Linked DNA regions of Homo sapiens. The protein of the gene in region 1 purifies or fractionates together with the protein of each later gene. This does not show direct contact. Each region holds a gene or a part of one and is shown in the gene's direction. Other genes may lie near its edges.

What was found.
Region 2: the proteins of ITGA6 (region 1) and OSTM1 fractionate together in Homo sapiens (co-fractionation; one large-scale study listed by BioGRID). This does not show direct contact.
Region 3: the proteins of ITGA6 (region 1) and SEPTIN2 fractionate together in Homo sapiens (co-fractionation; one large-scale study listed by BioGRID). This does not show direct contact.
Region 4: the proteins of ITGA6 (region 1) and NRP1 purify together in Homo sapiens (affinity purification with western blotting, with the first as the bait; one study listed by BioGRID). This does not show direct contact.
Region 5: the proteins of ITGA6 (region 1) and TSPAN5 purify together in Homo sapiens (co-immunoprecipitation; one large-scale study listed by IntAct). This does not show direct contact.
Region 6: the proteins of ITGA6 (region 1) and TSPAN15 purify together in Homo sapiens (co-immunoprecipitation; one large-scale study listed by IntAct). This does not show direct contact.
Region 7: the proteins of ITGA6 (region 1) and TRDN purify together in Homo sapiens (co-immunoprecipitation; one large-scale study listed by IntAct). This does not show direct contact.

What each region holds. Positions count from the first base shown.
Region 1 is NC_000002.12:172,500,586-172,503,772, forward strand, and holds part of ITGA6 (integrin alpha-6 isoform b preproprotein), read left to right. Parts: intron 1-1,186; coding exon 1,187-1,294; 3' UTR 1,295-1,316; intron 1,317-2,722; exon of another isoform or gene 2,723-3,187. UniProt on the Homo sapiens protein: Integrin alpha-6/beta-1 (ITGA6:ITGB1) is a receptor for laminin on platelets. Integrin alpha-6/beta-1 (ITGA6:ITGB1) is present in oocytes and is involved in sperm-egg fusion.
Region 2 is NC_000006.12:108,068,242-108,071,741, reverse strand, and holds part of OSTM1 (osteopetrosis-associated transmembrane protein 1 precursor), read left to right. Parts: intron 1-3,500. UniProt on the Homo sapiens protein: Required for osteoclast and melanocyte maturation and function.
Region 3 is NC_000002.12:241,318,925-241,322,424, forward strand, and holds part of SEPTIN2 (septin-2), read left to right. Parts: intron 1-1,278; exon of another isoform or gene 1,279-1,363; intron 1,364-3,500.
Region 4 is NC_000010.11:33,177,668-33,181,167, reverse strand, and holds part of NRP1 (neuropilin-1 isoform a precursor), read left to right. Parts: intron 1-802; coding exon 803-1,092; 3' UTR 1,093-3,500. UniProt on the Homo sapiens protein: Cell-surface receptor involved in the development of the cardiovascular system, in angiogenesis, in the formation of certain neuronal circuits and in organogenesis outside the nervous system. Mediates the chemorepulsant activity of semaphorins.
Region 5 is NC_000004.12:98,477,112-98,480,611, reverse strand, and holds part of TSPAN5 (tetraspanin-5), read left to right. Parts: intron 1-1,801; coding exon 1,802-1,927; intron 1,928-3,500. UniProt on the Homo sapiens protein: Part of TspanC8 subgroup, composed of 6 members that interact with the transmembrane metalloprotease ADAM10.
Region 6 is NC_000010.11:69,457,965-69,461,464, forward strand, and holds part of TSPAN15 (tetraspanin-15), read left to right. Parts: intron 1-3,500. UniProt on the Homo sapiens protein: Part of TspanC8 subgroup, composed of 6 members that interact with the transmembrane metalloprotease ADAM10.
Region 7 is NC_000006.12:123,504,451-123,507,950, reverse strand, and holds part of TRDN (triadin), read left to right. Parts: intron 1-3,500. UniProt on the Homo sapiens protein: Contributes to the regulation of lumenal Ca2+ release via the sarcoplasmic reticulum calcium release channels RYR1 and RYR2, a key step in triggering skeletal and heart muscle contraction.

The sequences.
Region 1 (3,187 bases):
TGCCACTGCACTCCAGCCTGGGCAACAGAGTGAGACTCTGTCTCAAAAAAAGGAAAGAATGTTGCCAAGTTGGAGGCAGGACCAGGCCTCTTGGCTCCTGGTTTATTCTTCTTCCCACCCTATTTACTAGCACATATTATTGAAAGCTGCCCAACAAAACTCTATACTGATGGAAATGTTCTGGAGCTGCAGCATCCAGTATGGTAGCCATTAGTCATGTGTGGCGGTTAGGCACGTGGAATATGGCTGGTTCACTTGAGGCACAGAGTTTTAAATGTAATTTAAATTAATTTCAATCTGAATAGCCTCACGGAGCCAGCAGCTCCCATATATTGTACAAAGTGAATCTAGGCTTTTACCTTCATGAGTTGCTGGACTAGGAATCAGAGTTTTTCAGGAGATTTTATTTGACCAGGTTAAATTTTATAAAAGACAGTTCCATGGCCTTATGAACTAGATAAAAGTAAATAGGAAAAGTTCTCTATCACTGAACGAAGGAAATTATAGTAGAAAGTGGAATTATACTTTTATACTCATTTAGAGTGACCTAACCTGAGGAGCATTGGGTCCCTACCATTTAAGGGTTTTATGGTGCTCAGAGTTTGGGAAAATGACAGCAATCATTCTTTCATGATGGTGTATTCGAATTTGTATTGTGATTCACCCCACAGATCCAAAGGCCTCAAGTAAATGGCATTTGTTCCATAAAATTTACTGTAAAAGGCAGAAAAATACCCATAGTATATCTATATTTTATTTGGATTTGTGCTTTTATTTAGAGAATTTATTTTCTAACCTTTGTCTCAATAAACTGCCGAAGTCAATCTTTTGCCTCTTTTGGAGTTCATATTCTCCTGCAGGAAGAAACTACCCAAAGCTACAATCAGCAATGTATATACGTTTTCCCTATTAGAATGATTTTTGTCCACAAGATTTCTGTTACAAAGAGAAAAATCAATGAGCTGACTAGTGTCATCCATATAAATATTTGACCAGAGATGTATGGTGAAGGGTGTATTGAATATGACAATGAAACAATGCAGTGGCTGTTCATTGTTGGTTGACTGAAAGTGGTCTGTTTGTAAACAAGCCACTAGTAGAAGGCAGATTAAAATTTGAGATGTTCTGTTGTTTGGCTCTTATACACAAAACTGTAAAATTGACTAAATACCTTGCTTCCTTGTAGTGTGGTTTCTTCAAGAGAAATAAGAAAGATCATTATGATGCCACATATCACAAGGCTGAGATCCATGCTCAGCCATCTGATAAAGAGAGGCTTACTTCTGATGCATAGTATTGATCTACTTCTGTAATTGGTAATTGATCAATGTTTTTTAATTGCTAGCTGTGGGACCCGCTATGGTTGTGGTGGCTAACTTTAAGAACAACAGCTTGCTATGTGTGTCCCATTAACAGATGTTTCCAAATGTCCACACTGGCTTGCCTTGCTTGGATTTGTTTTATTTTATTTCACTTGAAAGCTCAGTTTTTGTTTTTTTTAATGCACAGTCTTTCGTTGCAGGTGAGTTATTTTATGTTCTTGTTAAATATCTACCACAGCAATGAAGAAAATTTGCAATATTTGTACACACAAAAAGAGACTTTTAGCCCTCCATAGTAGCCCAGTTTGCAATGTGTTATTAATTCGGTATGTAGCATTCCACTAGGGAATTCAAAGATGCATAAGAAATCATTCTAGATTTCTTGTCCATTTTGGAATTTTCCACAGATAGAAGCTGTGTCGACCGCCTAATTAACCTGTTGCATGTTGGAAATGTTGTGTTTCTCTTGGTGAGGCTTCCTCACTGTCATCTTTTTGTTCTCTTTGCTATAAAGTGATGGGGAAGGCTTGGAATGCTTTTTACTGTTGCTCAGGAATCGTTTTATGCTAGCTAAGCATGCAACTTCCATTTCCTGCATGTCTCCTACAGGTCAAAGACCATTACAACAAACTGATTATCAGCATGATGGGCTTTTATGGCCAACTTCAGAAGATGATCCCTTACCAAAGTTACCTTCCATCTACAAAATTCTAGTACAAAAAATACCCTGAACAGTTTTTATTGCAATATGTTGTGATGGAGTTTGACCATATTTCATGTATCCAGAGATTTTATCCAACCTTGGATCTCAGTTGATTTTAAATTCAAGTTTCTCTTATTTGGAAATACATGGAAATAGGAATTGCTAGTGATCCCTTTCACCATTTACGTGGGCATGAGAGGACAGAATTACTCCTGTAATCCTTTCCATGGCACTATCACAGTGAATCACAACATTGCCATTCAGCTTTACATATTACCCTTAATTTCCCTCTTTGTTTAAATGGGGTAGACAGCAGTCATATTTTGTAATAGATAGGTACTTTGGCTTTTTTTTCTTTTTTTTTGCACAGAATAATAAATGAATCCATGTAGAAATGACCTGGAACAAAACATCTTGGTCCATTTTGCCTATTGATTTAGTGATAACTATACATATAATTTTATCTTGCTCCATGGCATTTTTATAACATAACATCATTCAACATAAATGTCCTGTTACTATTGACGTCACACAATAAACACATTAACAGTTCTATCAATATCCTCATTCTTCTAAACTGCATTTTAAAGTTGAAAACACCTTTTTTTAAAAAAAGTAAATATATTTCATTTAAAAATTTAATCTCAATTCAAATTTTTTCAGATATATTCTCAGTAAAAATATACTTTGGATCAGATTGACTATTTAAATGAATTTTATATATATATATAAACACACACATTAACAGTTTAAAGGTAAATGTATTTTTGCAAAAGAAGAGAAATTAGGGAGTGCTCTGAAATTCAGTGTAGTGATGCACTTCTGAAGTCCTATGCAGCACATGATTTTTATTGCAGGAAACAGTTACTATGTGATTAATGAAATAGCTTAATTAGAAGCACAATAGCAAATCCAGGCAACATAAATGACCTCCTGGCTAATGAGAGAAGTGATATGTGTACTAGAGCCTCAGAGGAGAGAAAAAGATTATAAAGTTGACCTGTTGGAACACTGGCATATTCAAATAGTAATTTGTAAAATACTTGTGACATGATTTGCATTTTATTAGTGGGAAAGGGGCATGAAATAATCTTTGGTTTATGCCATTTAAAAATTATTCTTAATCTAATCTGATAATCAGATATTTTACATATCATATTGT
Region 2 (3,500 bases), on another chromosome or scaffold:
CAGTAGAGCTGGATATGATTCATTAGCTCAAAAGTGTGACATCTACAGTTCTGAGGTACTTTATAGATTTAAAAGGCTATATGGACTGGTTTGGGAGTTGAACCATCATGTATAATAATGAACTTATGAGGCCAGGTGTGGTGGCTCGTGTCTGTAATCCCAGCACTTTGGGAGGCCAAGGCAGGCAGATCACCTGAGGCCAGGAGTTCGAGACCAGCCTGGCCAACATGGTGAAACCCTGCCTCTACTAAAAATACAAAAAAAAAAAAAAAAAAAAAAAATTAGCCGGGTGTGGTGGTGCGCAGCTACTCAGGAGGCTGAGGCAGGAGAATTGCTTGAACCCGGGAGGTGGAGGTTGCAGTGAGCCAAGATAGTGCCACCACTCTCCAACCTGGGGGACAGAGTAAGACTCCGTTGCAAAAAAAAACCAAAACAAAACAAAACAAAAACCTATGGAAAAATGTGTCATGAGTGAACTTGAAGGAATTAGTTGTCTCTTGGGGAGGTTTATTTATCCAGTGTAGTATATTTTCTTTTCTTTTTCTTTTTTTTTTGAGACAGAGTCTTGCTCTGTTGCCCAGGCTGGAGTGCAGTGGCATAATCTCAGCTCACTGCAAGCTCCACCTCCCAGGTTCATGCCATTCTCCTGCCTTAGCCTCCCAAGCAGCTGGGACTACAGGCGCCCGCCACCACGCCCGGCTGATTTTTTATATTTTTAGTAAAGACGGGGTTTCACCGTGTTAGCCAGGATGGTCTCAATCTCCTGACCTCGTGATCTGCACACCTCGACCTCCCAAAGTGCTGGGATTACAGGTGTGAGCCACCACACCCAGCCCTTTTTTTTTTTTTTTGAGACGGAGTTTCCCTCTTGTTACCCAGGCTGGAGTGCAATGGCGGGATCTCGGCTCACTGCAACCTTCGCCTCCCAGGTTCAAGCGATTCTCCTGCCTCAGCCTCCCAAGTAGCTGGGATTACAGGCGCCCACCACCACGCCTGGCTAATTTTTGTATTTTTAGTAGAGACAGGGTTTCACTATGTTGGCCAGGCTGGTCTCAAACTCCTGACCTCAGGTGGTCCACCCGGCTCGGCCTCCCAGAGTGCTGGGATTACAGGCGTGAGCCACCACGCCCAGCCTATCCAGTGTAATGTATTTTGTTTGACTCAGACTCAGTCTTTTATTGAAATCAGTTTTTAGCAAGCACCTACTATTCTTGAATATTGGGCTGGTAAAAGGATAAGAAGGAAAAGAAGGGTAAGATTCAGGCCTCAAACTATCAGTATAGTTAGGGGAAATAAAATACCTTATATGGGGAAATAGGAAAATATCAGTGAGTGTTATAAATTGTACCATAGCAATTTAGAACAAAAGAGTGAAAGGAATGCCAAGTTAAAGGAGGGAACAGAGCCAGATGCAGTGGCTCATGCCTGTAATCCCAGCACTTTGGGAAGCCGAGGCAGGTGGATCGCTTGAGGCCAGGAGTTTGAGACCAGCCTAGCCAACATGGCAAAACCCCGTCTCTACTAAAAATATAAAAAATTAGCCAGGAGTAGTGGCATGTGCCTGTAATCCCAGCTACTCAGGAGGCTGAGGTGGGAGAATCACTTGAGCCTGGGAGGCTGAGGTTTCAGTGAACCAAGTTTGCACCACTGCACTCCAGCCTGGGTGACAGAGCAAGACTCCATCTCAAAAAAAGAAAAAAAAAATGACGGAACAGAGCAAGGCTGGTTCATCAGGGGAAACCTACAAGCTGAATCTCAAGGCATTCTTTCTACCCTTCTTTAGTGTGAATGGACATGGATTGATTGAGAGAGGAGAGGAGTATAATAAGGAGAAAAAAAGAATCAAAGCCAGAAACTAGTAAGCTATTTATGTGGTACAGCAATATAATTAGTTTAACTATAATAGAATTCCCTGATAAGAATCCTAGGTTCTTGTCACTTCCTTTTAGAATTTCTGGGAGAGGGATCGCATATAGTTTCATTATCTCAAGGTGAAAAATACAGTGATTTCTGAAACCTGAATGATAGAACTGAGGGATTCCCTCTTCCTTAGAGTCATACTTTCTCCTTTTAGTTTAAACTGATAGGGACATAGTTTCATTGTGATTCAGCATTATCGGAATGGTCCTGAGGATGCTTTTGCCCCCTCAGATTCTGAATTGGTAGGCTCTGTCCTATTCTACTTGGTTTGTTTAAAATTTAGATAGTGTTTAAAATTTAGATCTATAGATCCATCCATCTACCTATCTATCTCTATCTATCTATGTATCTGTGTATCTTTGTGAAGTGCTAGTCATTTGGGTTATGTATTTGGTGAGTATTCAATATACTTTTACTGTAGATTATTAAATAATGAATTCTGAGGACTATAGGGAGAAAGCCAGAACATAGTGTAATAATCTGTGTCTTTCATTAGAGATCAGAAAATGTAATATTTCTTCTGCATTCATTCAAAAAAATTATTGAGTACCTATTATGTACAGGTTGTGGTAGCTACTAGGGATATAGCATGAATGAGCAGAGCTTGTAGTCTGAAGACAGACATTAAGCATCTCATTATACAAATAATTATTTAATTCATGTGTGATAAGTGTTGCTGATTAAAAAACCCAGATGCTACCAATGCATATGACAAGAGTGCTGATCTTGAGTATGACTGGGGGGTAGGTAGAATGGTCAGTGATTAAAGCAGACACCTACAATTTGAGAGAACACAGGCAGGGGAGGGAAGGTATACATGTAAAGAAATAGCAGGCATGAAGACTGAGATGGGAAGGAGTTTGTGGTGTATCTGAGGTCTAGAACACAGCACAGTGAGCAAGAAGGAAACCCGTGGTCTGAGCCTAAGGAAGTACACAGGTGCCAGGTCATGTGGGCCTTGTAGGGTATGTTAAGGATTTTAGACTTTGATTTTAAAGCAGTATGACGTTAGTGAAAGGTTTAATTCTGTGGAATGACATAATCAGATTTGTACTTTAAAAGGCTATGCTGGCTATGTGACAGAAAATGGAGAGGGTAGGGGCTGGGGAGGGTAGGGGAAGAAGATATGTGGGGAGATGAATTAGGAGACTGTTGCAGTGGTGTGAGAGACAGTGGTGTCTAGGCTATGTGGGGGCCATCATGATGTGGAGAAATGGGTGGATTTCAGAGATACTTAGGAGGCAGAAATTACAGGCTTGGAGGTTAATTGAATGTGGGGAGTAAGGAAAAGGTAGTGATGATTTCCAGGGTTTTAATAAGAGCAGCTTAATGAATAGGGTTGTCATTTACTGAGCTGGAGGGAGGAGTCTGTTTAGTGGGCGAAGATCATTAACTCAGTTTTGAACGTGTTGATTTTGAGGTGTTTATGAGCTTTCTAAGTGGATATATTGATTGCCTATGTGGTTGAATATACACATCTAGAGGACTGGACTAGAGATAACACCTTTGGGAGTGTCGGCATAAAAATGGCATTTGAAATTATGACATGGGTGAACATACCTGAAGAATGAGTAGGAACA
Region 3 (3,500 bases), about 69 Mb from region 1:
TGACCTCGTGATATGCCCGTCTTGGCCTCCCAAAATGCTGGGATTACAGGCATGAGCTACCGCACCCAGCCGAGTATTTGTATTTTCTGTGTATTCAGTCCAATCAGCAAAAAAGTGTTTTCTTTTGATTTTCTTGTTTCATTATATTCAGTAAACTCACCAAGGTAGTATTAAATAATCATGGTGAAATTGCAATATCTGGATCTTACTTGGATCTTGATTCACATGAAAAAAATGAGAGAATAGAGAATATGAATACTGATTGGATATTTGATTGCATTAAAGAACTAGCTATGTGTAATGGTTTGTCATTTTTAGGAGCCCTTATTTTTAGATATGTGTAGTGGAATATAAATGAAATGTTACATCTCGTATTTGCTTCATAATCATCCAGGCAGTGGCATTGATGATTGTGGAAATAGATGAAACATTATTGACCTTCAGTTGCTAATTGTTGAAGCTGGATAATGGATAGCACATGGGGGTTTTGTTTGCTTTTTGTATAGGTCTTCATGTAAAAGTTTTCATGTAAGTGCTTAAAAATAATTATGGAAGGGCATTCCTGCCGAATTATCGGTTGTAATTTAAATAGATTTAATTTTCTATTGTTTAGAAAACAGTATTTGCCTTTGGTTTTCAGAAATATCCTGAATTAGATTTAAGCAGTTTTCCTTTTTTTCTTTTTTTGAGACAGTCTCACTCTGTCACCCAGGCTGGAGTGCAGCAGCACCATCTCGGCTCACTACAGCCTTCACCTCCTGGGCTCAAGGGATCCTCCCACCTCAGTCTCCCACTTAGCTGGGATTACGGGTGCCCGCCACCACACCCAGCTAATTTTTTTGTATTTTTTGTAGAGACAGTGTTTCACCATGTTGTCCAGACTGGTCTTGAACTCCTGAGCTCAAGCGCTCCTCCTGCCTCAGCTTCCCAAAGTGCTGGTATTACAGGCGTGAGCCACCACACTCTGCCAGCAGTTTTCTTACTGTTTTCATTATGATTGGTTGCTGAATTTCATATGCCTCATCAGCATCTATTAATGCATGATTTTTTTTCCCCTATACTGTGTTGTTGGATTAATATTGGTAGATGCTTTTGATACATTCCTGGAATCTAATTGCTAGCAAATATTGTATTCAGGATTTTTGCATTTATATTTGTGAGTGAGATTGGCCTATGGCGTTCATTCATTCCTTTGTTCCTTTCTTATGTCTCCATCTGGGTTTGTTATTAAAACTGTGCTGTCTTCATAAAACAAATTGTTTTCCCTTTTCTCTGTAGAGGCTTGGAATAGTTAAATGACTTTGGTCTTGTCCAAGGTTAGATGGAGTTCAACTCTAACGTCAAGTCTTGGTCCTTTTCATTGGTATGTCTTTAATCAGCTGCTTAGTGATACTTGTTTTAGTCAGATTTTCCAGTTTTTGGTTCTGTATTGGTAATTTACAGTGCCCATTTTTTCTGCATTTTCAGATTTGGGGCCATTTTGCTACATGTAGTCTTCTCTGTCATTATTTTAGCTACTTTTCTATATTTGCTATTTTTTCCTGAATTGGGCTTGTGAGGAATTTGTTTTAGAAAACCAGCTTTTGCGGCCAAGCACGGTGGCTCAGGCCGGTAATCCCAGCACTTTGGGAAACCAGGGTGGGAGGATCACCTGAGGTCAGGAAGTTTCACCTGGCCAGCATGGTGAGACCCCATCTCTACTAAAAATACTAAAATTAGCTGGGCGTGGTGGCGGGCACCTATAATCTCAGCTATTCCGGAGGCTGAGGCAGGAGAATTGCATGAATCCAGGAGGCAGAGGTTGTAGTGAGCTGAGATCGCGCCAGTGCACTCCAGCCTGGGCAACAAGAGCAAAACTCCATCTCAAAAAACAAAAAGAAAACCAGCTTTTGGATTTGTTTACCCTTCTTTTTCCCCCCCTCATAATTCATTTTTTCTCTTTATTGATTTCCTGTTTTATCTCCTAAGTTTTGCTTTTATCTTCCTTCCATTGCTTTCTAGAGATTGCTTATGGCTTTGCTTTTGTTACCCTCCTTGATCCTGGGGATATCCAGTAATGTAACAAATTACTGGGAGTTACTTTTCATCTTTTTCCACCCAATTTAAGCAGATAATTATTTGAGAACATTGACTGTAAAAATGTTTTTCAAATTTTGTTTAGGCTTTTTTTTATGGTAGATACATGACTTCAAACATTTTTTAAGGTATTGATTCAAATTTCTCTATGTCTGCTAAATCAGATGTATTTGTTGTATTACTCAGTTCTTCTCTGTCCTTGCACATACTGTGTTTACTGAATCTGTCCGGTTCTCAGAGAACTCTATTAAAGTTTCTCACTTGAATTTTTTTTTTTAAGTTTGTATTTTTCCTAGTCCTTGCTTTATGTGTTTATCTACAGTGATTATTTGAATATACAGGCTTATGAATATTACATCTTCCCTATAAATTGTTTCTTTTATCATTATAGCTTGTTATCCCTGTTATTCTGCTTATTTTTACTTTAATTCCCACCTTGGCTGATAGTAGTGTTGTCTCTCCTCCATGTTTGCACTAGCCTGCTATTTTTTACCTTGTCCCTTTATTTTCAGCCTCTCTTTGTTCCTTTTGCTTTAAGCATATACGTTATAGCTGGACGGTTTGTTGTTTTTGTTTTTTTTTTCCCTTGGTTTTTCAGGCCAATCTGTCTTCTCCTTTAAGCAGAGAATTTGGTTATTTCACATTTATACTGATAACTGATATTCTTGAATTTTGTCCCCATTGTCTTGATTTAGGATTACTTCTGATTTTGTTTCTTCTTGTTCCTTTTCCATATTTTTGCTGGTTTGATGAAGTTGCTGTTTCCTCCATATTTTTCTCTTAATTTGGAAGTTCTCATTGTTATTTTCTTTAATGATTACCTTTTTTTTTACTTTCATAATCAGATACTTATCTCTGTATTATTTGAAAACGAGATGCCAACTCCTTCTGCCAAAACTGTCTGTATTACATCTGACCCTTCTCTTTCCCTTTAGGAAGTTCTACTCCTCCACACTCACACTTGCTCTCAATTCTTAGGTTTTGCTGAAATTAAAGGCTCTTGAACCTTACTGCTACTATCCCTTGGTTAACCAAGCCAAATAACACTGGGGATGCAGGGATCTCATTTCTTCCAAAGTAGCTGGGAACATTTCCAGTCAAAAGGGAAACAGAGGACACAGTATTCAGGAAGTTAAGATTTGGGGGAGGGGAATCGAGAGGCAAAGTGAGAGAAGCTTTTTAATAAGTTTCTAAGCTCCAGAGGGAACCAAATTTGACAGCAGTCATCTTTCTTGGGGTTGTTACTGAAGGTTAGCCAACAGACTCCATGCTTTCCAAAGCTTCAGGGTTTCTAAAATTTGTTTAAAAATTCCACATATCTCTGGCTGGGCACAGTGGCTCACACCTGTAATCCCAGCACCTTGGGAGGCTGAGGCGGGCGGGTCATGAGGTCAGGAGATCGAGACCATCCTGGCTAACACAGT
Region 4 (3,500 bases), on another chromosome or scaffold:
TAGTACCAGGTAATTAGGCTCAAAGCTCCCATGTTAACAATTTCTCCTGTTCCACTCCAAAGAAAACAAGTCCCCAGTGACTGAGCTGCAGAGCAGTGCAACTGTCTCCAGTTAAACTACCAGGGCTGCAAAGATGCTGATTATTAGTAAATGTCTTCTATTTGGCATGACAGACATGGTTTCTCGATTTGAGCCACACTCTGTTTACATGTCAGCAGCAAGCATTCTCTTGTTCTAAAAAATCACTCCTTCTTTACTGAAACTACTGTAGACTTTGGGCAAAATTCGTTTCACTTGAAGATTTTCCATATGGGAGAACAAACACATGCATAAACCATGCCAGATCCTGGAAACAGCACCACGTAGAAGGGCAGCCATGAAGGTTTTTCTTGTGCCTGTTTTGGGGTTAGGTACATGCACTGGGAATGGTAAAATCCCCTTGCTAGACTAATGTGTGACTAAGCATTTTGCAAAACTTAATGATCACCTATCTAGCCAAGGACTGTAAACACAGATTACAATCTAGGACAGATGGGGCTGCATGAAATCTGAGTTAGATGAGCAAGGAACCTCCCAGTTGATCCAGAATGGGTTGTTTCCACGTGCTAAGCAGTCTGTCAGAAGCCCCAGCGCCCACTCCCCTCTACCACCTCCCACACTTCTGTTCCCAACAATGAGTCAGATATGACAGGCAAAACTGGGGTGTGTGATTTGCTCCTGTTTCGTTCCTTTCTATTTTTCTGTCTGCTTTCATCTGGTCTGTTGGCGGTGCTCACGGAGACAATATTGTTTTTTTCCATAGGGAGCACGCCAGGATACGAAGGTGAAGGAGAAGGTGACAAGAACATCTCCAGGAAGCCAGGCAATGTGTTGAAGACCTTAGACCCCATCCTCATCACCATCATAGCCATGAGTGCCCTGGGGGTCCTCCTGGGGGCTGTCTGTGGGGTCGTGCTGTACTGTGCCTGTTGGCATAATGGGATGTCAGAAAGAAACTTGTCTGCCCTGGAGAACTATAACTTTGAACTTGTGGATGGTGTGAAGTTGAAAAAAGACAAACTGAATACACAGAGTACTTATTCGGAGGCATGAAGGCAGACAGAGATGAAAAGACAGTCAAAGGACGGAAGTGGAAGGACGGGAGTGAGCTGGGGAGCTGTTGATCTTTCACTATACAGGCTGGGAAGTGTGTTGATGACCACTGAGCCAGGCTTTTCTCAGGAGCTTCAATGAGTATGGCCGACAGACATGGACAAGGAGCTGTGTTCACCATCGGACTCATGTGCAGTCAGCTTTTTTCCTGTTGGTTTCATTTGAATAATCAGATGCTGGTGTTGAGACCAAGTATGATTGACATAATCATTCATTTCGACCCCTCCTGCCCCTCTCTCTCTCTCTCCTCTCCCCTTTGTGGATTCTTTTTGGAAACTGAGCGAAATCCAAGATGCTGGCACCAAGCGTATTCCGTGTGGCCCTTTGGATGGACATGCTACCTGAAACCCAGTGCCCAGAATATACTAGAATCACCGCATTTCAGTGGACTCCTGAAGTTGTACTTGTGTATAATTGCCCGCGTCGTGCATAGGCAAAGAAGGATTAGGCTGTTTTCTTTTTAAAGTACTGTAGCCTCAGTACTGGTGTAGTGTGTCAGCTCTGTTTACGAAGCAATACTGTCCAGTTTTCTTGCTGTTTTTCCGGTGTTGTACTAAACCTCGTGCTTGTGAACTCCATACAGAAAACGGTGCCATCCCTGAACACGGCTGGCCACTGGGTATACTGCTGACAACCGCAACAACAAAAACACAAATCCTTGGCACTGGCTAGTCTATGTCCTCTCAAGTGCCTTTTTGTTTGTACTGGTTCATTGTGTTACATTAACGACCCACTCTGCTTCTTGCTGGTGAAAGCCCTGCTCTTTAATCAAACTCTGGTGGCCCACTGACTAAGAAGAAAGTTTATTTTCGTGTGAGATGCCAGCCCCTCCGGGCAGGCAAGGGCTCTGAAGATTTGGCAACGTGGCTTAATTGTTCTGCTTTTTCTGTAGTTCAATTTCATGTTTCTTGACCCTTTTGTATAAAGCTACAATATTCTCTCTTATTGTTCTTTCATATGGAATGTATTTTCAAATGTAAACTCTCTTCTCTTTCTCTCTCCTATCTCTCTGTCTTTTTTCTCTCTTAGAATTGGAGGATTTGCCATTGTCCAGGAAAGAAACTTGCAGCTTTAACCTGCTGGGAATGGCAAACGATTTTACTAGACTTTATGTTTAAAAATAAATAAATAAGGGAAATTCCTAACTTTGCCCTCCAAAGTCTAACTTTGGTTTTCTTGTTAACTGGTTAAAGTGACAGTATCTTTTTTCCTTATCTATTCTATTCAAAATGACCTTTGATAGAAATGTTGGCATTTAGTAGAAATAGTGATAAGTTGAGGAAAGAAATAATACAAATTGGCTTTCAAGTGAGACCCAAAGGAAGAACTGGATAAAATCTTCCAAATCCAAAAGCATGAGATTTTTCTATCCAAATATGCAAAAATGACCCAAGAGAACTTTCTTATTTTGCTACTGAGTCACACAAGGGAAGTGGAAGGAAGAACAGTTAATTTAAGAATGAAACTATAAATCCTGATGCCTGGGGGTCAAGTATTTTAAGATAAGAGGGGGAAAAACACATAAAGTCAAACAAATGTTTTAAAAATTCATAACAGCAACCTTGAAAAAATAGACTTAAATGAATGCTTCTAGAAACTTCCAGCGGCTCACAAAGAATAAGCCTGCCTTAGGGCTGGCAACATCTAAGCCTCTAACAGCACAGGGAAGCAAATATCTTACCAGGCAGCCTATGAATTAACCCAAAGAAGCTTTGGTTGGTTTTGGTGGATTTTTATCATGCCATGTTGGACATGAGATTTTTTAGATCTTCCTTCCCACATTGCTAGACGTCTCACTCAAAGACATTTGTTGGGAGTCACATTTGCATCATAGACGAGACAGTCCATTCATCTTAGTTAAATTGGATTGAGAATGCCTTTTGTTTCCAGGAAAATATTGATCACCATGAAAGAAGAATAGTTTTTTGTCCCCAGAGACATTCATTTAGTTGATATAATCCTACCAGAAGGAAAGCACTAAGAAACACTCGTTTGTTGTTTTTAAAGGCAACAGACTTAAAGTTGTCCTCAGCCAAGGAAAAATGATACTGCAACTTTAAAATTTAAAGTATCTTGCACTGATAAATATATTTAAAAATTATATGTTTATAAAGTTATTAATTTGTAAAGGCAGTGTTACAAAATGTTCAGTTTATATTGTTTTAGATTGTTTTGTAATTTTTAAAGGTGTAAAATAACATATTTTTTCTTTATGGAAATCTATAAAACTTTCTGTAGTAAAATGTTTTCATTTTACTGGTATATTATTGCTTCATGTTTTGTACCATCATAAGATTTTGTGCAGATTTTTTTTACAGAAATTATTATTTTCTATGACAATATGACAC
Region 5 (3,500 bases), on another chromosome or scaffold:
TTTCTTTTTGCATCATGGAATGTAATGTTTAGAAGTAGCTGTTGGTCCGGAAGGTCTTCAAATGGTTGAGACTTGATATTTATTTAACTCAGAGAAGTAGAGAAAGTGCATCCCAGGGAAGTGAGGAAGGGGCTTGTGTAGTAGCCTTTGACTCCGGCCCCATTTAAGAACCACTGAATTTAACCGCTTGTTTTAATATATTTTAATTGGAAGACTGACTTTTTAAAGTTGAAAATGTAAAACACATGCACTTGTTTTTAAACAAACTCAGAGTAGAAACAAATATGATGAAAAGTTAACCTCTAAAATTTTTGGTGGTAATGGATATATCAACTATATATCCATTGATTGTGGTGACATTTTTGTGATGTATACAGATGTCAAAATTTATCAAATTGTATACTTTAAAATGTGCAATTTATTGTATGTCAGTTATACCTCCATTATTGCGGGATCTGGCCAGCAGCCTGCAATGCAACAGGGATCTCTCTGTTCCCAGGCGGATCGGCAGGTCGAGAAATAATAGACACACACAAGATAGTGAAAGCTGGGTCCAGGGGGGTCACCGCCTTCTGGTCACGCAGTGCCAACAATGCACTGGATATACCAGAATTTATTATTAAGTTTAGTGAGGGTGGGGGTAGGTTAGTGAGGGATTTAGGTCATTTGATTATGAGGTGAGATGGTCACATGGGGATGAAGTAATTCTTTAACATAACATCTGTATGCAAAAGTACAGTATACAGGGATAAGAATTTACAATATAGTGTGTGCTTCAGTAATTTCTAACAGAGCCTTAAAACAGAAACACAGTCTTTCCACAACCTATGATTAGCAAGATATTAGTCAGCAGTAACAGTTGCAGCAAAAGCCAGTTACAAACAATCCATAGAAACAGGACGTGAAGCTACACAACCAGTTAGACCAGAAATTCTCAGAAGGGAGTATGCCTTAACCCTAAAGAGGTCTAGAAGAGCCGTGGCAAGATGAGGGCATTTATAGCCCTGTCTTATACATATGGACAGGTGCCCCTCATGTGTCTGTTTATAGGCTCTCCACAAAGGTCGCATTCTATTCCCAGAGCTATGAACATCTGCTTTTCTGGGATAGGAATCTTGGTGATGTGAAACCTCCCTGACTGCACGTCCATTCATAGGCTCTCTGCAGGGGGAAGCACATCACGCACTGTTGGCTCATTCTGGCAGTCCAACCTGGCATTGTCTTTACACAATCCTGCATGCAATTTTGTATTTCCAGTAATCAGGAGCATTTCATCTTTTATTCCATAGCAATAGTTTCAGGGGGTCTCCCTGCGCTCCATAAAACAAAACAGATCTTTAAAAAAACTATTAGAATGTAGAGATCAAAACTTTGAAAAAGTAAGCTATAGTTAGCCCACCCATAACCCCAGTTGCCTCCTTCAGTCACTACCACTGTCGTTAGTGTCTTATTTACCCTTCTAGAATGTTCTTGTTTCTCCTTCTAGAATGACGTGCCCAAGCCAAACAGATCTTGTTCTAACTGAGCCCTGCTGTACAGCTGCTCTGCCCTTCTTCCACCTAACACCACAGGTCTCATCAGTTGTTTAAATCACGTGCCAACACATCCCTACAAACCTTCAGCCCTAATTAATTTGGAAGATTTTATATGGGCCATTTAGGTTCAGTTTGGCTTAAAAATAAAGTCTAGGACAGAAAAGAAGGTCAGAGCTGGCAGAAGCTGGTGTCGTTCGGCGGGTGTGAGTGTAGGTGACTGCTTGCCTCCAAGTTGGGATGTTCTAATTCTTTCCTGTTTGCTCTAGTGGCAGTGCTGTGGGGCTTTTGGAGCTGATGATTGGAACCTAAATATTTACTTCAATTGCACAGATTCCAATGCAAGTCGAGAGCGATGTGGCGTTCCATTCTCCTGCTGCACTAAAGATCCCGCAGTAAGTGAATGCCAGCGAACTATTGGCCTACTCTGTACATCATGCCGAGAGTGTGCATGGGACGAGCAGAGTGATTTTTTGGTTGAACCCTCTTCTTACCTGGTTACTCGTATTTGTAGCTCCTGTAGGGGGTTATGGTGCTCAAATCTTCCTAGTAGGAGTAATAATTGCTGGCATTAATTTAGCAGTGTGTGCTGGTTCCTATTCTAAGCCTTTATGTGTGTTGGCTCATTTAAGTTGGGCACATTCCTACTGGCAGATACCACCATTACCCTCCCTTTTCAGGGGAAGAAATCAAGGCACATGAGGTGTAAGTGACTTTCCCAAGCTTGCACTGCTAGCAGGCAATGGAGTGGAATATGAGACCCAGGCAACTTGCCTGTATCATCTGTTAGCCTTTCTTCATGAGAAGGGCAGGCTCATATGAGAGCTCTCTGCATTGGTTTGGGGTTAGTAACCCTTTTCTTTTTGGCTTAGTTCTAGGGGAACTATTAGGAGTAGGAGGAGAGTTTGAGACAAGATAGGCCTGGACTGCTGTGTAGGAAGACCACAGCTGCCCAGACTCCTGAATGTCATCATGACTATAGTCATGCAGTTTGCATTTTATTATAAAAAAGAATAAAATATAAAATCTATTTGTAAGTCACTCACTTTTGCCACAGGTTTGATTATATTTTGTGTCAAATCGTGCCTGGTATATAGAATGACTTAAAATGCAATTCTTAAGCCAGGCATAGTAGTTCACACCTGTAATCCCAGCACTTTGGCAGGCTGAGGTGGGAGGATCCCTTGAGCCCAGGAGTTAAAGACCAGCCTGAGCAACATAGTGAGACCCCATCTCTACAAAAAAATTAAAAAATTAGCCATGTGTGGTGGCACACACCCGTGGTCCCATCTACTCTGGAGGCTGAAACAGGATCACTTGAGCCCAGGAGTTTGAGGCTGCAGTGAGCCATGATCATGCCACTGCCCTCCATCCTGGTGACAGAGTGAGACCACAATTCTTAAAAAAAAAAAAAAAAGGTAACTCTCTAGTGTTAGAATGACAAACATGAGAGGTTACTCCACGCATCTCTGTGTGCTCCTAGCTGCAGAACCCTTCTGGGACTCCTCAACTGTTCTCTGGCCCTGCAGTCTCCAGATGTACTCCCCAAGGCTCGCCCTTACCCCTCAGAAGCAGAGCCGAGTGGGTGCTGATGAGCTCAGTGGGGATGCTCCTTCTTATGGTGGAGGCTGTGGGGCTCTTAAAAGGAGCTATGGTCTTGGAGTGGAAAAGCAGAACTTCCCTGTGGGCTTCCTCCAGGGGACCACCTCAGCTGTTTCTCTTGGTCTGAAAGAGGAGACAAAGTCACTAAGGACTGTGCTGCCCCGCCAGCTGCCCTTCCCACCAGCTCAAACCTCCTCTCCCTTCTGAGGAGAGCCACATGGCAGCAGAGTGCCCACTCAGAGCTTGAGGGGCTCATCCTGGTGGCCTTGCACTGGCCAGCGGGTGCCGCACAGTGCGCCTCCTGTCGCCAGTTCCTGTCCCACATTAACACTCCCTTGGGAGAATTCTGTATTCTCAGAGGCATTA
Region 6 (3,500 bases), on another chromosome or scaffold:
CCTCTAGTGCAGCCTTTTAAATTTACCGATAAGAAATCAGAGGCCTGAAGAGAAGTGAGTTGCCTGAAAGCCCACAGCAAGTCAGTGACAGGCCAAGACCAGATCCAGGCTGCCTGACTCCAGTTTCTTCCTCGGGCCCCCATGACCTTTCCAGGCGCCATGTATGTTTCTCCCTGGTCTCAGGGTGAGGGTAGAAGATAACCTTTCTGAAAGAGGCCACGTCCCTGGCCTCCCAGTGAAGCACTAGGTGAAGCCAGGCCAAAAAGAAAGCACTTCTCTGGAGACAGTTTCCAGGAGATTTTTACTTTCGAGAAGAGCTTTATTATTTTTGTGAAAATCATACATGCGCATAGCTTAAAAGATTCAAGCCATTTGGGAAAGTACAACGAAAACAGCAAAAGTCCCCTTTGATTCTACCACTGGGATTCAGCCACTGTTATATGTTGGTAAACATCCATCTGGACATCTTGTACATATATGTAGACATTTTATTTCTTTAATTATCTTTCTTATTGTGTTTGATTTGTCGAGCAAAGTTCATTTTCTGGCTCTAGGTAAGCATTCCAAATAGTGAAACTCAAATAGTGAAGCTGAAAGTGGGGCAGCCTTCATATTGGAGAAGTGGCCAGCCGTGCCTAACGGGCTGTCAGAGATGATCTCATAGCATCAGACTGGGCTCAGGCCTCGGGCACAGAGAGGTCCTCCCCTCCCCCAGTCTGGCCACAGAGCCTTTAAAATCCAGAGAATCAGGGCTGCAGCCCTGCCAGGGGTTTGGAGAACCTTCCAACACCTTCATTTTATAGATGAGCAAACTAAGGCCCTGAGAAGTGTCCTTCGCTCTTAACCTAGACTTTGTACATGGTCTCGTTCCCCGCTTTAATAGAGGAATTGCTTTATGTCGTAGGACTGGACCTTGCTGCCTTTGGGTTGGTTCCTGGAGAAGCAGGAATAACCACCTGCCCTCCTGCCCGGAGGCCTTTCTTCCCAGGTGACTCACAGTGCCACCCTGGGGTGGGGCTCACGGTCAACCTGATAAGGGACTGATAATGAAATTTCTGTACCAACTGGCTCCACACAGGGGAAAGATGTTTTCTGGGTAAGTCTGGTCAGAAGAGGTTGATGGGGGGAAAACAAAACAGACAAAAAAAAAAAAAAAAAAAACAACAACAAAACAACCTTTCCCAGAGAGAACTTTTAGATGTGAATGGGTTTGAATTGACTTCTTGTTGGAAGGCAGGAGCATTCAGTCTTAACCAGCCGTGCTCTCTGGTTGGTTGGTTTGTTCATTAAGTCAACAAATAGTTATTTGATGCCTACTGAATGCCAGGCACTGTGATACCGTGATAGGTGTGGGAAGCAACTATGAACAAGACAGGTTTAGTCCAGGCCTTGGAAGACAGAGCAGTAAATAAATATCACTTGTGATAGGTGCTAAGGAGAAAATTAGGGAGCAAGTGGGGAGGGATGGGCGTTTCCACTTTCGATGATGTGGTCAGGGAAAGCCTTTATGAGGAGCTGACATTTCAGCTGAAGCTCAAATAGAGAAGGAGCCAGCCATAAAGACTTGTCCAGAGCATCCCAGGCAGAGAGAGCCATGAGTTCAAAGTCCCTGAGGCAGGTCGCAAGCATGGCTACAGCAGATGAGGAAGCCCGGGAAGGGCTGCGCTGTGGGTGGAGAGGGTGGCAGGGGCCTGGCTGTGTGAAGAGTTTGGGGTTCGAGTGACTGAGAAGCAGGGTTTCATTGTCAGGCCCTGTGGTCTTGCCATCCAGAGACCTAGATCAGGTGTTGGCTATTCTGTGTGACACTGGGTAAAGGACCAGCTCTCTGAGCCTCCGAGATGCCTCCTCTGTGGGTACCCCAGAGGGCAGTGGGGAGGATCCTGTGAGATGAGAGGTGCCAAAGCACGGGGCCTACTCTAGGGTCCCCCACCCACGGAGGGAGGGAGACTCTAGGCACCCCCCCCCCACGAATGGAGGGAGACTCTAGGGCTCCCTGCCCACGGAGGGAGGGAGAGTCACCTGGGAGCCTTGCATTGCTCAGGGGTAGTTGGGGAGATGAGATGAGATGAGATGAGATGAGATGAGATGAGATGAGATGAGATGAGAACCTCTGGAATCCGTCTTGTCAGAGGAGGCTCCTTTGCCCCTGGGGGTACTCAGCCTGCCTAGAACAGATGGCTATGGAACCAACTCCTCCAGCCAGCTGGTCTGACCCCTAGGGTGTGCATGTGGTCTTTTCCAGAGGCTGGGCCCCTCCCACCCCTTAGTTTCTGGGCTACCATGGCACACTGTCAGAAGCACTAGGCCACAACAGGCACGCGGGGCCAGGCAGGCCGTCTGAGAAGTGTCCTGCTAGGCTCTGAGGGGTCCCAGCCCTCGGTCAGCATGAGTTGTTCAGCTCCAAGCTAGGCCCCTGGGCTGGTGGAGGTGAGGAAGAGACACCGTAGAGACACTGTAGACTTACGATGTCACCTTCCCCAGCTAGAGGGTTGGCCTGTGAAGGAGCTGGCAGCCATCTCTGCCTCTGGCGATGTGCCATGTTAGCCCAGGAACTAAGGGGTGGGAAGGGCCCAGTCCCTGGAAAAGACCACATGCACGCCCAAGGGGTCAGACCAGCTGGCTGGAGGAGCTGGTTCCATCAAGGGCCAGTCTGAGCTAGGCTGCCTGACTGTGGTGGCCTGACCACCACATTTTGCTTCATCTCTTTGGATTCTCAGAGTGACCCTTGAGCTGGGCTGGACAGGGGGTCTTGTCCTGTTTTACAGAGGAGTCTTTGGGAGGACTCTGAGGGCTTCACTGGGCAGGGAGGCCTCGCAGAGAGGAGTGGAGATGAGTCTTAGGAGAGGGAGGGCGGGCTACAGAATGTTTTTTGGGCCTGAGTGTTGAGGTCAGAAATGTCCTCTGGGAAGACCAGGTCTGGAGGCCAAGCAGAGCTGAGGAGGATGAGCACTTCTTGGTTGGCGGGTGAGGAGAAGGTCCATGTGACAAGTCATGGACAACTCTCTGTGCCTTGGTTTTCTTGTCTGCTGGGAGGGGATAACTGTTGTGCTGCCCACAGGGGTGAGGCTTAGATGAGGCAGTGCCCACAGAGCGCTGAGTGGGCATCTGGCTGGGTAACCGTTCATGCAGATGCTGGGAGGAGACGCCGTCTGCCACGTGTCTCACCACAGTTTGCTTCATCTCTTTGCATTCTCAGAATGACCCCATGTGCCTTGTCCCATTTTATAGAGGAGGAGACTAAGGCCCTGAGCGGGGAAGTAACTTGTGTGAGAACCATCATTTGCATGTGTTCCTGGGACAAGAACTGTTTCACTGTGGGAAAGGTTACTGTTGGGTTTTAATTTTTTCCAAAAGGGACTTTCTCGCCAAGACATTTGCATCTGGGCCTGCAGGGAAGCAAGTATTTCACTGGAGGGTGGAAGGAAAACAGCCTTGGCCCAGATGGGCTTGTTTTTCCCTCTTCAGAGCCCTCCCACTTCCTGCCTGGGAGAGCAGGAACC
Region 7 (3,500 bases), on another chromosome or scaffold:
CAGTTCTTTATGGAATGAGAGAGAAAATTTGTTATTTTCTAACTCCCAACATGTGTAGTATGTTTCTTGAGGGATACTATTCTATTTAATACTTTGGCATCAGACATTCTGAATCTGATGCAGTAGCTAATGGATCACGCTAATTCCAAGATTGAATCAAATATGCTGATGTCATTTTTTTTGATTAGGCCATTTTGTTTTCCATTTGACAAAAGTCATGAATAAAATGCCTTCCTAAATAAAACTGGGTGATTTGAATACCCATGGCAATACTTTTTGTTTTTTTCATTCCTTAATAAATTTCGTCACTTAAATTATTTTAGGGAAAAATCAGGAAAAATATTTTGGCACAAAATTGAAGAATGTGTACTCAAAAGTAAATAGAAGTTGGGTGTTGCTTTAGTTTCATGATATTTTCTTTATTATAGCCACATCATTGTTTAGTTGTCACTCATTTTTTTCTACTATGAGGCAAAGTTATCTATTTCCAGAGTGAATGTGATTGAAGAGTGTCTAAAATAGTAGAAAATATTTTATTATTTTTATACTTAAAGTCAATGATTATAATGAGTTGGCTATATATGTGGTTCTACCTCTTAGAAAATAATCATTGCCCACTTATAAATTATAATGGCATTAAAAAGAAATCTGAATTTCACACATCTATAGTTCCATACTATAAAGTTAAGGTTAAATCAACTGTAACTTACAAGGAGTAGATAGCTGTCATTTAGAGTAAGCAAATATAACAATTTCATACAAATTAGTATAAACAAAAAAAAAAGTTGGCAAGTTTAACAGGTTTAGACAAGTTTATTTCTAAACACATATTTACATAATGCAGTCTCTATATCACTATATTATACATATGATCTGAGTATAGTGGAATATTTACTCTCTCCATCAAAATTGCTAATCCAGTATACATTTATCCTCTGTTTTCTCTGAAAGAAGCATTGTGCTAGACACTATGGTGATACAAAAATAATAATAGAATTCCTGCCCCTAAGCACTGTCTGTCTGGTAGGGAAGACAGATAGATCAAACTATCTATATTTCAAGATATATAATAAAGAATAAAATGTATAATTTAATAAAAATTCAGAAAAATGGAAGCTCATGGGAAGACATTATTAATTCAAATGGGAGAGCCATTTTTTTGCATGTGAATTGACCATGAAGAAATTTAATCCCAGCACTTTGGGAGGCCGAGGCGGGTGGATCGCCTGAGGTCAGGAGTTCAAGACCAGCCTGGCCAACATGGTGAAACCCCATCTCTACTAAAAATACAAAAATTAGCTGATGTTGGTGGTGCACACCTGAAATCCCAGCTACTCGGGAGGCTGATGCAGGAGAATTGCTTGAACCCGGGAGGCAGAGGTTGCAGTGAGCCAAGATTGCACCATTGCACTCCAGCCTGGCAACAGAGCCAAGAGTCTATCTAAACAAAAAAACAAAAAGACAAAAATAAATAAAAAAGAAATAAAGAAATTTAAATATGTGGAAAAATATAGAAAATATAGAGAATGCAGTCTGACAACAGTTGACACATGGAAAAATACATAAAATATTCAAAAGAAAGAAAGCAGTCCAGTAGAGGAATAAATTTTTGGAAAAGTGCTGTAACATGGGAGATAGGAGGAAGCCAGATATTGCACGGTTTTAATTTTGCTGTGCTAAAATTTATTCAGGTAGTTTTATTATTATGCTGATTTTTAGAGCTCCAGCAACTAGCTGTGAGCCCAGGTCAACATAGACTCTCTAGAAGTGTTTTTTAGGTGAATGAGTTGCATGAGATTGAGGTGCTGTTGACCACTCCAGTGAAACTTTCTTTCCAGACAGACACTAATAAACATTCCAGTGTGGAATTCTGGAATGATTTCAATTTAAAGTCATCCGCAGAAAGCTGCTGGTTTCAGTCACAGAAACATATGAGTTTACTGCAGGAAAGAGCAGAAACCAGCAAAGGAGGTTTAGAAATGATTTATAGGAAGAAGAAAATCCCCTGAGTGTAGTTACAGAAGCCACAAAGATGTTGAAAGTTTATGGACATGTGAAACCCCATCTCTACTAACAATACAAAATTAACTGGGCTTGGTGATAGGCGCGTGTAATCCCAGCTACTTGGGAGGCTGAGGCAGGAGAATTCCTTGAAACTGAGAGGCAGAGGTTGCAGTGAGCCGAGATCGTGCCACTGCACTACAGCCTGGATGACAAAGCAAGACTTCATCTCAAAAAAAAAAAAAAGTTTATAGAGTAATTGAGTAATATTTGTATGAGAATTTTATGATTAAACAATATTGAATAATGTGTGTATCATAATTCCCCTTCTTAAAAATTCTCAATACACTTCAGCTTTGAGAAAGTCCAAGCTAAATGACCAGGTTAGCTTATTGTTGCCAAATGAATTTGGCCATGAGAATATTCTCCAATACCTAATACAGTATCAACATCTTCCTGTAAATATCTGAAGTATCTGAGAAACAGTGTTTTGGGAAGTGCTGGCGTAGTCAATTAAGTGCGATACCACAGATGATTTTTGGTTTGCAAGCTAACCAGCATCTGGCATTATCATTTTCATTCTCTCAATGGGACCTTCTGATATTATCTTGGCTTAGCCTGAAATCATCATTTAGGGTACCAAAGTCAAGAAACTTGATTACATTTTTTCATTAAATTCTTTTTTTTTTTTTTTTTTTTTTTTTTGAGACAGAGTTTTGCTCTTGTTGCCCAAGTTGTGGTGCAATGGCGCAATCTCGGCTCACTGCAACCTCCGCTTCCCTGGTTCAAATGATTCTCCTGCCTCAGCCTCCTGAGTAGCTGGGATTACAGGCATGCACCACCACGCCCAGCTAATTTTTGCATTTTTAGTAGAGATGGGGTTTCACCCTGTTAGCCAGGATGGTCTTGATCTGCTGACCTCATGACCCGCCCGCCTTGGTCTCCCAAAGTGCTGGGATTACAGGCATGAGCCGCCATGCCCGGCCTTCATCAAATTCTTTAACATGAGTGACAATAAAGGCTACACAGTGCATTAGCAAATGACATAGAGGATTCCAACATTGCAGTAGAGTTGCTGTGGTGTATAGTGGTTATGTGTAGTCACATACAAAAAGGAATGTCCAATATTCAGCATCTATTATGAACAATTTTCCACAAATTATGTGCTACATTATTACTGCTTTTTAAAAGATGCTTGAATGATCCACAGACTAGTTATTTGCATCACAGTTCCCTCTTCCAAAATACGGATAATATCAAATTAAGAATATATGTGTGTAATATATATATGTTCTAATTTATATATCTATTCATATATATTTTTATTTATAGCCCTTTGAATTTCCCATGATATGTTTAAGGGCTTTAAAAACTAGTAGAATTATCGCTGACTTAAGATAAACAGGAGCCAATATCTGAATTTCTTCACTTTCAGTTTTTCTAAGGCCAAATCATTAGACTATAGGTCTTTCAGTTATCTTCTAATGGATTTCATTGTT